4 linked regions of the Homo sapiens genome follow. The protein of the gene in region 3 purifies or fractionates together with the protein of the main gene of each other region. This does not show direct contact. Each region holds a gene or a part of one and is shown on either strand. Other genes may lie near its edges.

What was found. Proteins that work in one complex are often made in the same cells at the same time.
Region 1: the proteins of POLA2 (region 3) and NCKAP1 fractionate together in Homo sapiens (co-fractionation; one large-scale study listed by BioGRID). This does not show direct contact.
Region 2: the proteins of POLA2 (region 3) and CHM purify together in Homo sapiens (co-immunoprecipitation; one large-scale study listed by IntAct). This does not show direct contact.
Region 4: the proteins of POLA2 (region 3) and PDCD4 fractionate together in Homo sapiens (co-fractionation; one large-scale study listed by BioGRID). This does not show direct contact.

What each region holds. Positions count from the first base shown.
Region 1 is NC_000002.12:182,909,401-182,912,957, reverse strand, and holds part of NCKAP1 (nck-associated protein 1), read left to right. Parts: 3' UTR 1-3,557. UniProt on the Homo sapiens protein: Part of the WAVE complex that regulates lamellipodia formation. The WAVE complex regulates actin filament reorganization via its interaction with the Arp2/3 complex. Actin remodeling activity is regulated by RAC1.
Region 2 is NC_000023.11:85,953,502-85,957,058, forward strand, and holds part of CHM (rab proteins geranylgeranyltransferase component A 1), read right to left. Parts: intron 2,878-3,557; coding exon 2,652-2,877; intron 1-2,651. UniProt on the Homo sapiens protein: Substrate-binding subunit of the Rab geranylgeranyltransferase (GGTase) complex.
Region 3 is NC_000011.10:65,278,235-65,282,501, reverse strand, and holds part of POLA2 (DNA polymerase alpha subunit B), read right to left. Parts: intron 3,773-4,267; coding exon 3,579-3,772; intron 2,965-3,578; coding exon 2,876-2,964; intron 1,511-2,875; coding exon 1,355-1,510; intron 833-1,354; coding exon 770-832; intron 24-769; coding exon 1-23. UniProt on the Homo sapiens protein: Accessory subunit of the DNA polymerase alpha complex (also known as the alpha DNA polymerase-primase complex) which plays an essential role in the initiation of DNA synthesis.
Region 4 is NC_000010.11:110,888,928-110,892,484, reverse strand, and holds part of PDCD4 (programmed cell death protein 4), read right to left. Parts: intron 2,953-3,557; coding exon 2,855-2,952; intron 1,930-2,854; coding exon 1,815-1,929; intron 1-1,814. UniProt on the Homo sapiens protein: Inhibits translation initiation and cap-dependent translation. May excert its function by hindering the interaction between EIF4A1 and EIF4G. Inhibits the helicase activity of EIF4A. Modulates the activation of JUN kinase.

The DNA.
Region 1 (3,557 bases), on a different chromosome or scaffold from region 3:
GGAAAATTAGTATGATGCCATTAGCAAAAACATAAATTGCACTTAACTAAAGTTCATCTGGCTGAATTCTTTCCTTCCTTCCTTCCTTCCTTCCTTCCTTCCTTCCTTTCTTCCTCTATCTTTCTTTGGTTTTGAGATCTGTCTATAGTATTGTGCTAGTGCACATATTTTAATTTGGTGCAAGGCATGCTTAACAGAGTAAGTGAAAAGCTATAAAGGTTAGAGCGTGTATTAGTTTCAATGACGAAGGAGTAATAAATCATTTTGTCAGGTTGCACTCTAACATTCAAATTCCATTTTTATTATGGCTAACTAGCCAAGCATTTATAATTCTGAACTCCACAGAATGGGGAAAAAGTGTATTAACTTATAATAGATCATTGAGCTTGTTAAATGTACCTTTCCTAATTCGTACTTTTTCCCTTTTGCTGAGAAAAATGCCTTTCTGAATATATAATTTTTACAGGTCATTGGAAAGGAGTACTGCACAACAGGATTATTATAATGTGCTAAAAGATGGCACTTGTATCTCATTGCCACATAGAGAGCTCATGTGAAAACTCTTTGATCTTTGCTGGCTTTTTAGCTGAAAAGATTTGGAAATCTTTTTGGCACTGGCAAAAACAGAACTGTGGTAACTGTTTATAGTTGGTTGATTTTTAGCAATGGGTAAGAATGTCTTTGTTGAATCCAGTTTATTAATACGTAATGGGCAACATGTTGCCTTAAAGGCAAAAGCATATTTTTCTCATATCAAAAAGCTCCCTAAATTTTTGCCAATATCCAAAGATATTTTAAGATGGTCTTCATTTTCTTTTTCAGTCTGTCCTATGCTGAGAAAAAAAAATTACAACCTCTGAACTTCAGCAGTTTTTTAGGTAAAAGGAATTTTTCATGATGTGATTGATATAACTACTCAGCTGGACATAAGCTTTCAAGGGCTAAGTCCATTTGCCGATTTGTTTGCATTTCCTACTCCAACTAAAATAATTCAAAGACATGAAGTGTCTATTGTGGAAAATGCATGAATAATGCAAAAGTCATTCTCAAGTGACCTATCAGAAAGGCCTACCAGAAATGCAGTTACTGCTTTCTAATAAAATCATGAAAAACTTTTTTAAAAAGTATAACCATCTTGAATTTGTTGAGGCAATTATAAGAGAGTATATAAGGGCAAGTTTCTCCAAAAGCGGTTCTGTTTGTTTTGTTTTTTTTTAATAATTCCCATCAACAGCAATCTGTTTTCTCATTGTAGTAGTATAGGTGTTAACATAAAAGCTCAAACAGCTTGGGAGAAAAAAAAGGATATAGCAAACCTAACTGATAACTTTGCTAGTTTCAAATCATTATGATGGCCATTCATAGATGACTGAAATATTTAACATTTGAAGTAACAGAATTTTGACTTATGTTTTCATGGTTTAAGAGTTTATATTTCAAATTTTTTCACATAGTCTGTTTATAACAGTATATAAAACATGTATTAACTATATAAGTTAATAAAGTCATGAACTGATGGCCATTTTTTGGTCTTATTCATATAGTATAGGCTGTTTTGTGAATTAATCCCCTTCCCATGTGTTTGAATTCCCCACTATGTAAGGCTTAGTGGTGTTAGCATGATCCAAGGGTGGGATTTTCAGCCCTCTGACATCAAAAGGTGAAGCAGAGGACACAAAAACCCTCACTGCATCTTCCCTAGACTGGCCAGAACCACTCCATGGTCAGTGGACTCCCTTAATAGGAAGGAATGCTGGTCAGTTGTCAAAGAGCAAAAAGGGAGGGGTAGTCATGAGGTTGGTTGTAATCAGAGGTGCAACAGGTCTTTCCAAAGGGCTGGTTTCTGTTTAACTCTTAGGAAAGAACACCTAATGGTAGTTAGTGAGGAGGGGGTATAATGAGATGTGCCCAACCTCCCATCCCATCATGGCCGGGAACTCAGTTTTTAAGGTTTCCCTGAAGTCCTCTTGGCCAGGAGAGGGTCTGTTTAGTCAAATGTGGGGGGGGAGCTTAGGATTTTATTTTTATTTCCAAGTTATAATGTTGGACCATCAGAGCATGAATACAGGTTGAGTCTTTAATCTGTAAATACTTAGCAATCACCTTCTTCTCAGTAACTTTCTCTGAAGGTTGCTGATAAGCCAGTGTTCTTGATGTTTGCCCACTTACCCCTCAAGATGAGGAGTGAAGAAATTAGATTGCATTGCCAGGAATTTCCTAGAAGAAAAGGTTTTGAGGATGCATGACCTATGAGGGTGCTGAGGACCCCTTTCCACCAAACATGGACTAACTTCTGGGTTGCTCTTTCACATCTATTGTCTTGTTCGACGTACACAGAAGTGCAGAGCACAGCCGCAGCCCTCACAGCATCATCTATCTAGGTTCTGAATCCTGAATGGTCTGAGGCTCTCCTAGAGCTGAGATTCTCCTTTGCAGTTCCAGTGGAGAAAAGCACTTTCTTTGCCGAGGCAGTGTAACTTCCTTGTTCCCAAGGCTCCAACTGTTGTGGGCACATATGAGTATACATTAACATCCATGCCCAATTTATAATCACTGTTTTCCCCACATGTGTACTCAGACCTCCAAGCTTCTGAAAAATATTTCCTCTCATCTCTCAAAGAATTTTAGTACATTTGCCTGGATGCAGAAACACAAATCATGCTGGCTTTCCTACTCAATCAAAAACTGTAGCTTGAGTGGGGTGGCAAGGGTTGTCCCACAGCAGGTTTACTTGGACTCCAAAATGATGTAGAGTTTAGTGAGGCAGCTCCTTGAGTTTGAACTTAGAGCCCTTTTGGCTACCAGGGCACCTGCAGTCCTCCAAGATAGTAGAGTCTGAACCAGTTAAAGAGCCAGCTACCACAGCTTTGCAGAAACCACTGTTTCTCCTTAACTCTAGGGCTCAGCGGTTGAACTCCTTAGAATAAAACTTTCTGTCTGCGACCCTATCATTTTCTTTTGTATTTTGGCCTTCACTGAATTCCCACCCCATCCATTCCAACAGACTTGGTTATACGTGTCTGAACACCAAATGTGACAGAATTTGTGGCCTTGGATCAGGAGGCTATTTGGCCCTTATCTAAATCGGTGGCTGAGAATGGATTCCAGGGAAGTGTTTTTCTTAGGAGTACCCAAGAAGCTCAGCTCAGGTTGGGCTCCCTGTTCTATTCTGAGAACTACAAATCAAATTCAAAATGGAGCACAGAAAATTCTCATTTCTAGTTGACTTATTTGTATTTTGGTGTCCTGTGCCCTAAATATCTTCTCAAGGAAACCTTGGCTTTAAAAGTGATTGTTTACTTAAACAAATAAAACAACAACATACAAGAAAAGGCAGTAAATCCGAGCGTCCATCAACAAATGAATCAAAAAACAAATGAGATATATATGTACGGTGGCATATTATTCAGCCTTAAAAAGGAAAGAAATTTTGACACATGAGACAATATGAATGAACCTTGAAGACATTAATTATGCTGAGTGAAATAAGCCAGCCACAAAAGAACAGATATTGTATAATTCCTCTTATATTAGGTACCTAAAATAGTCAAATTGAT
Region 2 (3,557 bases), on a different chromosome or scaffold from region 3:
CATTACCTTATTTCAAATTATACTACAGAACTATAGTCACCAAAACAGCATGGTACTGGCATAAAAACAGACACATAAACCAAAAAAACAGAATAGAGAACCCAGAAACAAATCCACACACCTACAGTGAACTCATTTTTGACAAAGGTGCCAAGAATATACACTGGGTAAAAGACAGTCTTTTCCATAAAGGGTGTTGGGGTAACTGGATATCTGTATGCAGAAAAATGAAACTAGACCCCTATCTTTTGCAGTATATAAAAAGCAAATCAAAATGGATTAAAGAATTAAATCTAATGCCTCAAACTTTGAAACTACTACAAGAAAACATCGGAGAAAACCTCCAAGACACTGGTCTGGGCAAAGATTTCTTAAGCAATGCCCCACAAGCACAGGCGACTAAAGCAAAAATGGACAAACGGGAACACATGAAGTTAAAAAGTTTCTGCACAGCAAAAGAAACCATAAACAAAGTGAAAAGACAACCCACAGAATGAAAGAGAATATCTGCAAACTACCCGTCTAACAAGGAATTAATGACCAGAATATATAAGTAGCTCAAACAACTCTACAGGAAAAAAATCTAATGATATGACTAAAAATTGGGCAAAAGATCTGAATAGACATTTTTCAAAAGAAGACATACAAATGACAAGGAGACATATAAAAAGGTGTTCAACATCACTGATCATCAGAGAAATGCACATCAAAATTACAATGAGATATTTTATTACCCCAGTTAAAATAACTTTTATTCAAAAGAAAGACACTAGCAAATGCTGGCAAAGATACGGAGAAAAGGGAACCCTTGAACACTGTGGGTGGGAGTGTTAATTAGTACAACCACTGTGGAGAACAGTTTGGAAGTTCCTCAGAAAAGTAAAAATAGAGCTACCATACGATCTAGCAATCCCACTGCTAGGTATATACCCAAAAGAAAGGAAATCAGTGTATCAAAGGGATATCTACATACCACATTTGTCGCAGCACTGTTCACAATAACCAAGATTTGGAAGCAACCTAAGTGCCCAGCAACAGATAAATGGATAAAGAAAATGTAGTACAGTTACACCTTGGAGTAATACTCAGCCATAAAAAGAACGAGATCCTGGCTGGGCATGGTGGCTCACGCCTGTAATACCAGCACTTTGGGAGGCTGAGATGGGTGGATCACAAAGTCGGGAGTTCAAGACTAGCCTGGCCAAGATGCTGAAACTCCATCACTACTAAAAATACAAAAATTAGCCAGGTGTGGTGGCACGTGCCTGTAATCCCAGCTACTCAGGAGACTGAGGCAGGAGAATCACTTGAACCTGGGTGGCAGAGGTTGCAGTGAGCCGAGATCACACCACTGCACTCCACCCTGGGTGACAGAGCAAGACTCCATCTCCCAAAAAAAAAAAAACAAAAGAATGAGACCCTGACATTTGCAACAACATGACAACATGGATGAAACTGGAGGTCATTATATTAAGTGAAATAAGCCAGCCACAGAAAGACAAACAATGCATATCCTCACTTACTTGCGGGAGCTAAAAATTAAAACAATTAAACATATGGAGACAGAGAGTAAAAGGATGGTTATCAGAGCCTGGGGCGGGTTTTGAGGGGGCAGCGGATAAGTAGGAATGGTTAATAGGTACAAAACGTAGTTAGAAAGAATGAATAAAATCTAGTGTTTGATATTACAACAGAGTGACTACAGTCAATAATGATTTAATTGTACATGTTAAAATGAAGAGTATAATTGGATTGTTTTCAACACAAAGGATAAATGTGTGAAGGGATGGATACTCCATTTACCATGATGGATTACACTTTGCATGCCTGTATTAAACTATCTCATGTACCCCACAAACACATATGCCTCCTATGTACCCACAAAAAATAAAAATTTTTAAAAATGTGTAAAACAAACAAAAAAAGACACAAACAAGTATTCCCTGAAGATAAAACATGAATGGCCAGTAAACATATGAGAAAAGGTTCAACTTCATAGGTAATTAGGGAAATGAAAAATAAAAATCCAATGCAATGATAATTTATGTGAGTTAGGTTGACAAAAAAATTTTAAATGTTGGCAAACATGTAAAGCTTTGGGTATTCTTATGTACGGCTAAAAGGTTATAATTGGTACAGCCCTCTAGAGAAATAACTGAACACGATGTTGTAAAGTGTTAACATTCATGTATCTCAGGACTGGGGAATTCCACCCCTAGATATGTTTCCGAGAGAAATTCTTGAACATACACAACTTGAAACATACACAAGGGTGTTAACCTCAAAAAACTGGAAACATCCTGTGTTCATCAACAGAAAAATGAAAAAATAGATTGTGGTGTATTCACAATAACATACTATATAGTAATAAAAAATTAACTAAAATTATATGCAATGACAATACTTTCCATCATGCTATTGAGTGGAAAAAGGAATTTATAGTATTTTTATCAAGCTCAAAAAGAGGCCACACTGAATATATCACTTAGGTGGGTAGATAGGTAGGTAAATAGATTATAAAAAATAAATAGAATAAAGTATATATTTGCATATACTAAATCTTGAATAAATCTCATTTTTGCCTGCCTAATTTTCATCTGTTATTCAAGTATCACTTTTAGAAGGGACAAGAAAATCAATGGCAAACTTACCTGCAGAAACACTGGGGGAGTTCTCCTTGGCCATATAAAGGAAACAAAAATGGAGTGTTGCCATACCGCCCAAGACAGTGAAGAAAGTTTTTGGTAGCTTTGAGACCATCTATGGTGCTGCTGGCTGTCTCTGATGTCATTGCAATTGAATGCATGACAATATATTGGAGGTTGGGGGTTAATTTTTGAGTCTTTAAATATTCATAAAATGTGATCTCTTCATATCCTATGAAAAGATGAAATTTTATCACTTAAAATCAGAACTAAACTTCTATTTAAAACCACCCCACAAAAAGGAGATGAAGTGTGTTTCACAGACCTCACAAAGGACATAGGTGGTATTACATTTTGGACACTGATGGTTGATCTTAGGAAAAAATGGAAACAATCTCTCTCTCTTATTTGGAGTAATGGCACAATTTTTAGCTTTAAATGATGAATTATGATTGAGCATTTCATGGATTTAAAAAAAACTAGAAAATATTAAATAACTCAATGGGTTGTCATAGTTGGCAATAATCTCACTTTATTATCATGAAACCTGCAGGATAATGCCAATAATGGTACTGAAAATATTAAACAACTATGACAACATGGGAATGTATTGATTTAAAATGATAAATATGTGAGTTTTGTAAAACGTATACTTCTCACTGATACTCAGAAAATAAACTAAAAAATAATGAAATGAATTTCCATGTGGCTACTGGAATCAGTCTTATGGCCACATAATCACATCAAAACATACGGGACCCCCAGAAGTTACTCCTTTAAACCAAGAACAGAATATAATGTAATTGGACTGTTAGTGGTGGGAAATAAATCCCATGATAAAAGACAAAAACTTTACAGAAATAATTTACATAAATAAAAATTATGAAAATTTACTGAGAGAATTGAATTTTA
Region 3 (4,267 bases):
TGATAAAATGGAAGTGGCACACCCTAAAAACAGGGGAAAAGCTCAAGTAAGGTCTTGCGCCAGGCATCACCTTGGTAAGGAAAGGGGAGGGCACCAGGTTGGGGGTGGTGCAGGTGTGTGATGGGAGGACAGTGGGGAGGAGCGAGAGGGCAGGGGAAGGATGTGCCTCTGTCTTGCTCCCTGGATCTGATGGGACCTGCCATTTTTCTATACTGCTCAGAGGGCAAAGAAACCCAGGTAATGGGAGGTCACTACTCAATTGTCATAAAATACCCAGCAACAAGTGGGAGCAAAACAGGTGCCTAAAGTATCAGTGTACTTCTAGGCAAGGATGGGAGAGAATGGTTTCTTGCTACTTTTCCTGGCATTCTACGAAAATCTCTGGAGGATTGTTGCCTAGAGCAGGGATAGGTAACCTTTCGGCCTCTGGGCCAAATTTGGCTGCAGCCCACTATTTAAATAAAGTTTTATGGGAACACAGCCACAGTCATCTGTTTAAGAGTCCTCTATGGCTGCTTTTGTAGACAAAGGCAGAATTGAGTCATTGTGACAGAGACCATATAGCTACAAAGTCTAAAAGAGTTACTGTCTGGCCCTTTATAGAAAGGGTTTGCTGACCCCTGGCCTAGGGGTGGGTTCCCACTTACAGATGGAGAACTGACTAACAAATAAATGGGCTCCTAAAAAGGACCAGTTTCTAGAACAGACAGCTTCCAGACATACTTTGTCTGAAGCAAACCAAGAGGCAAGTGGGGGTACTGCTGTGTACCTCGTAGAGTTTGGTGGCAACAAGTTTCCTACCAGTGGTGTTGATTCCTTCCATAATTACAACCTGAAAGACAAAAACAAACAGGATTGCTAAGCAGTGGAGATCAATGAGGTCTGGAATACATTATTTTGAGGCAGTTAAAAGCATTGTCCAACTACTCTCATTCTGTAATCATAAACTTAGGGCATTTTTGTAGAAAACGAATTAAGGGCGTTGCATTAGTAATAATAATTATGCTCTATATAAGTGATCTAATTTTCACAACAATCCTATGAGGTAAGAATTATTATTTCCATTTTGTGAGTGAAGAAACTGTAGTTTAGATGGTTAAGTACCTTGTGCACAGTCATGCACCTCATGGAGCGGGGAGTTGGGATTTGAGGCTGCGCAGTCAGGTCCCAGAGCCTGGGTCAGAGCATGGGGGAAACAGGAATCCCAACAGTGGTGTCTGCTCTGGGGCATGTGCTCCAGCTGCACCCCATGGCAGCAGAGACAGGAACTGAGGAGCAGCTGCGCATGGCACAGCACCTACACTACAGGGGTAAAGAGTGCGCCTGCATTCTGGTGGAACTCCTCCAATCTCACCTGTCCAGGAAACAGAGAATATTCCTTAAGCTCAGATAAATCCACTGGAATTTGAGCACCCGAGGAATGTTCCCGGTCTCCCTCGAGAATCACTGACTTGTTGTTCAGCTTCCCGTTGCTATCACAGCCAATCTGGCCCAGCAGAGTGACAGGCTCCTACCAAAGGAAGGTCACAGCATAAGAATGACAGTCTTTGGAGCAGGAGCTCAAAATCTGAAGTCGATAGGGTGAATAGCAAAACAAACTGCAAACAACAAATACATTTCTTGGCAGGGCATTGCTTTGACCCTGAGGTGACTACCGCGTCATCACTGACTCTCAGGATGGAAGAACTCTGAAAGGGCATCTTGTCCACCCATCCACCCAGCACTTGAGCCTTCCTAGGAGGCTGCCTAAGTGTGAGCATCTCTAGTGTAGGGGAACTTGCCCCTGGATGCCTACCCCACCCTGTCCTCACCACCCCAGGGCAGCCCACTGCATCTTTGGGCAGCTATAACTACTTAATAATAGCTAACATTTCTTGAGCTTACTAAATACCATGCACTGTTCTAAAATGTATTCTTAGGCATTTTATATGTATTAACTCATTTAATCCTTGCAACAACCATCGGGTGGATATTACTGTATCCATTTTACAGATGAGGAAAACAAGCAACAGAAAGGTTAGATAATTTAGTCAAGGTCAAACTGTGGGTGAAGCTTGGGTTTGAAACCAGAAATTTGGCTCTAGAGCCATATCCTTAGCCACATACCATACAACCTCTTAACAGGAAGTTCTTTATTAATTGAGCTAAAATCTCTGTCTCCATGGCTTCCTCTGTTCTGTTCCCACTCTTGGGAGAAAACAGAGGAAGTCTCATCTTTCCCAGTGATTGTGCCTCCCTGCCTTCCCTCAATTACTTCCTTCCAAGTCCTCTAACACTTCCTTCTATGACACAGTTCTGCATCACTTCCCCAACTGATCATTCTTTGAATGTAAACATTGACAAAGGTACTTTAAAGAAACTTCTAGAATATATTTCCCCTTAGATTAGAAAACATTCTAGAGAGAAAGCACTGGTATATATGCCAGATTAAACTATGATATAAAGATACTATTGGCAGCAGTTTGTCTATAACAAGAGACCAAACCAGGGGAGAGACTGTGAGTCATTGTCCAGAGAACAAGATTCTGAAAACCCCACCGTCGCTGCTGTCCTTTTATCTCGATACGTGAATGCTTCTATTTGTGGGAAATCCCCGGGGAGCTACCTGACTCACCACCAAGGGAAACAAGGCCTTGAGTCTCTGCTTATGTGCAAGACTCTAATCCAAGTGGGAAGAAAATCACTCTCTGGCCACAAAACCAGACAGCACTTACAAATCTTTCTTCAGAAGGGCCCATTTTCCCAAATTCAACCAAGACAGATGTTCAAACTAGAACACAGACAAGAAGTGAAAAAGGAAGCAAGAAGGATGCCTCTTGGTCATCGATTTAAAAACGTAATATTAATTAGTGAGAACTATTAGAACAACTCTTACCTGTGCTGGGGCTAGCAAAGGAGTGAAAGCTTCAATCTTGTAATGTTCCTTGAGTTCGCTGCCAAGTTCTTCTATCTTACAGGTCAGAACTACAATCCCAGAAGTGGAAAAAAGTATTATGTTTAAGACATTTCACTTGCCAAGAAGAGAAAATACAGCACATTGTAAAATATTAAAGTCAGTCATTTTACAGAAGCAGGAAGGGTGCCTGGACATCTGGCCAGTTTAAACCTTCTAAAACCTTTGCCAATTTTCCGATATTTGGTTGCTGAATCTGGCCTTCCATCTGGCCACAGGAGACCCCATAGCACAATTCCAGGGAATCAGCATGAACCCCACCCCATCTCCAAGTCTGCCCTTTACTCAAGTCCTCACTGAGGTTTTAGGCAAGTCAAGGCCAACCTGAAGAAGGCTTCTAACGAAGGAACCATGAATATCTTTAAGTTGAATTCCTTTACATCGTTCAAGTTTTTGCTGCTGGGAATGGTTATGTGCGTTTTAGCAAAGTGAAGTGACTTGGGGCAATCACTGATAGTATTGCCCGTGTCCCTCCATTACTAGGGCTTCCATGAGGACATCTACCAACTCATACATTGAAAGGCAACCTTGGAACTTGTTCTACCAGCCTAGCTGAAGCTTTGTTACTCTACACCCTTCTAGGTGGTTTTATATCCACCAGAATTTCAAAGGGAAAAACAATCACCTTCTCGAATGTCTGGGAGCTTCTGAAACATGGATTTGTAGCTCCCAGTTAGTGCCTCTGGACATCCCAAGACCTTCAGGCTGATGTTTCCAGCTCCTCCTCTCCCAGACCAAGATACTCCCTGTGCTAAGCCGAAGGAGGTAACCACTTCTCCTCGGTTACTTCGTGAGTTGTATTTCTGGGAGGGAGTAGCACTAATTGGAAGCAAAACAGGTTAATATTACTGTGTTCATATCTAAAGGGAGAGAAGAATAAAATGAGGTTACCTTTGGAAATGGGGACTGGAGAAAAGGAAGGTGGCCTCATAGTTTATAAATTGAATCAGTTTAATGGGGTTGGACATACCCAGACCTTTAAGGAATTTCAGGAATGAAGGGCTGAGGAATACCAGGCTGAGGAATACCAAACATTTTTAGAGAAGTTTAGAGACAGAAACGTATTTTAAAAAGTTGTCGTTCTCTTGGCATTAAAACTAAGCAAGGCAAAAAGATCCCCAGATTCTGAATTGATTAAAAGGCAAACTTTAAGTCCCATTTTTTTCTTCTCATGAATTTTTAGCATTTATTGGAACATCATCTGAGCCTGCAACTGTGGATAAGCTAAAACTTGCTGAGCATATATAAAAACTCACAATATGGTTCAAGGTAGAAACAACAATAAAATGAAATTCAAATTAATCAATTTTCCCC
Region 4 (3,557 bases), on a different chromosome or scaffold from region 3:
TGATAAATTACAAATACATTTATACATTTCTAAAAGTCTTCTTTGATCCAACCCTTCCATGTAAGCAAATATCCAAATAATGTCAACCTCAAACTCATATACTGGCAGTTTTATTTCCATTTTTATCTTGTCAATTTTCTTTATTGAGAGAGAATTCACACACCATAAAACAGCTTGTCCAGTTTCCAAAAATATTAATTTTGGAGAGTATTACCATCTTAACAATATTAAGTATCCTCATCCATAACCATGGGATATCATTCTATTTATTTAGGTCTTCCTTAATTTCTTTCAACCTGTTTTGCAGTTTTCAGTGTACAAGACTTGCATTTGTCTTGTTAAATTTATTCCTAAGTATTTTATTTTTGATGCTATCACAAATGCAATAATTGCATTTCAGATCATTCATTTCTACTGTATAGAGAATTGAATTTTGTGTACTGATCTTTTATCTTGCAACCTTTCTGAACTCATTTTTTAGTTAATAGTTTGGTTTCAGTTTTGGGGAGTTAAAAAATGTGGATTCATTCAAATTTTCTGTATACAGATCATGTTATCTGGGAATACAACTAGTTTTATCTCCTCCTTTCCAATCTGGATGCCTTTTATCTTTCCTGCCTAATTGCCCTGGCATCTTGACTATTTTTATACCTCAATTTTTCTAATAATTGTTTAATTTTTAAAAAACAGATACTGCAATCACGACATTACAAACACTGACTCATCTATTTTAACATATATAAAAGCAAAAACAGTCAAGGCTCTAACTACAATTTGAACTCCTTAACACTTAAGCTAGATACACATACACAAACACACACACACACCTCATTAAAAGACTTACTAAAAATCAAAATTGTAGTTACATGAAAAGATTATACTCAAAAATCAGAAGCACATGAACTACAAATCTTCTAGTTGCATGCCTTTTCTTAAAGAGATCTGCAGATAAGGAGTTTTTTCTGTTTTTTGGTTTCTTGTTATAGGACACCACATTGCAGCCAGAAAAAAAAAAAATCCATAGGGAATAAATCTGGCATTTTAATGCAATAAATCGCTTTTTTTTTTTTTTTTTTTTGAGACAGAGTCTTGCTCTGTCACCCATGCTGGAGTGCAGTGGTGTGATCTCAGCTCACTGCAACCTCCTCCTCCTGGGTTCAAGCAATACTGGTGCCTCAGCCTCCCGAGTAGCTGGGATTACAGGTGCGCACCACCATGCCTGGCTAATTATTATGTATTTTTAGTAGAAACGGGGTTTCACCATGTTGACCAGGCTGGTCTCAAACTCCTGGCCTCAAGCAATCCACCCGCCTCAGCCTCTCAAAGTGCTGGGATTACAATCAATTTTCTTTTAAAACATGCATATGGGTAGTGAATGTCCTCACAAAAATCTAACACTCTGATCTGCTCTAGTGCTCATAATTCATAACTCATTATTTAAGACTATCTAGTTTTAAATTGCTCATATAAAAGCGTATTTATTGAATAGCTAAAACACAGAAAATCTCATTTCAACAGCATTTGAAAATTATTAAATAATACTATAAGAAAAAGATTTCAGGCATTCCTTTGAAGTTCATAGATGGCTTGCTTATAATTATTCATGAAAGCCATTTTAACAGACTCATTTTTTAATCATATAATTTATAATAAAAGGTTATAAAGCCACATATTAAAAAAATTATTTCATTTTCCAATTGCAGCTGTAAGACCGAACTTAATTTTTGTCCATAAAAATACCAGCTAGTAGCCACAATTTATTTCACTCAGAGGAATACATATAAATTAAGTTAAAAACAATACCCAATCATTACCTCTTTAACAAGGTGATTGACAGATTGCTGCCCACCTCCAGAGCCCCACACACTATCTTTACGCTTTCCACCTTTAGACATACTCAGAAGCACGGTAGCCTTATCCAGAGCAGCTCTACAGAGAAAGAAAAAAATTTAAGTTTGATAGCTGGACATACCTAAAGTTTACTAAATTAGGGATAAAGCTGACAAAATCCTATATGCCCTAAATCTTTCACATAACATAAAAGCAAAATAAAATTCAAAACACTTTTTCAAAACAAAAAGGAGCAAAAAGAAGTTGATCCTCATGTTAATATTCTCATGCTCTATTTCATTTCTCATTCAAGAAAAATCAAAACACATTACAAAATAACTGATCTACACTGAGAAGAAACACTTCACATATAATTAACTTTCACCTAGATCCATGCCTTCCTACCCAGGGACACCATTCCACTATGATGTGAAGTAGCCCTAGAAAATTAAGTTAATATATAGACCTGAGGAAAACTAAGACATGGCTGAGTCCAAGTCTCCAAGAAGTTAAGAAAAATCAAATAGCATAACTCCCAAATATCACATTTAGTTATACCAAATATCATATTAATTATACTAAATCACAAGAGTGAAAAAGATACTTTCTGACTAAGATTTCTACAGTAGATAAATACAAAATAAAACTATAAATCAGGCCTCTCTTCTTAAGGTTATCCATCTTATTAGAATATTAAACTATTACACAATGCTAGAACCTGAAAACAGAACTTAAAGATCTGTCCAATGGTTTTGTTTCATAAATAAAGAAACTGAGGCCCAAAGAAGAGTGGCTTGACATGAAGGTAATTAATGATTTAGCTAAACTCCAGAACTTTTCCATTATAGTACTGTCCTCTTCCTGGTATATCATGCCAATAGTCTCTCCATTTTAACAGTGGAGAATATAGAGAAGTGACAAACAGATGTACAGAGTGTCTGATTAACACAAGTGTCATTTCAATAGGATCCTGTAGAATTTTCCCCTATTTTGAAATTCTAAGTAGGAAAAGTGATTTACTTACCTAGCCTGCACACAATCTACAGTTCCTTTGTAACTATCAATATAGGTATTACATAAAATTCCATCTCCAACAGCTCTAGCAATAAACTGGCCCACCAACTGTAAAAAGGAAAAAAAAAAGAGCTATAAAAAAAGTTAAATAACTTTTATAGGTCACAATTTCTAAATACATAAATGATGAAGATTAGCTGAAGTACACAGTCAGTACCTAAAAGATGCTGGAATTTTTTTTTAAAAAAAAACCTATGTAGTACCTGTTATGCCTGGCATACACTCCCACATCTTAACCTTCAAGTTAAGTGCCAGAGTGGGGGCCACATCTGTTTTGCTCACTAATGAATCCCTAACACCTTGCACACTGCCTGAATACATAGCATATGATCAAATTTTTTTTTTTTTTTTTTTTTTTTGAGACAGAGTCTCGCTCTGTCGCCCAGGCTGGAGTGCAGTGGCACGATCTCAGTTCACTGCAACCTCCACCTCCCAGGTTCAAGTGATTCTTCTCCCTCAGCCTCCCGAGTGGCTGGGACTACAGGCGCACACCTGGCTAATTTTTGTATTTCTAGTAGAGACGGGGTGTCACCATCTTGGCCAGGCTGGTCTCGAACTCCTGACCTCGTGATCCGCCTGCCTCGGCCTCCCAAAGTGCTGGGGTTAAACGAATGATTTAAGGTCAAGTGACGTCCTCTCTTCTTAAAACAAAA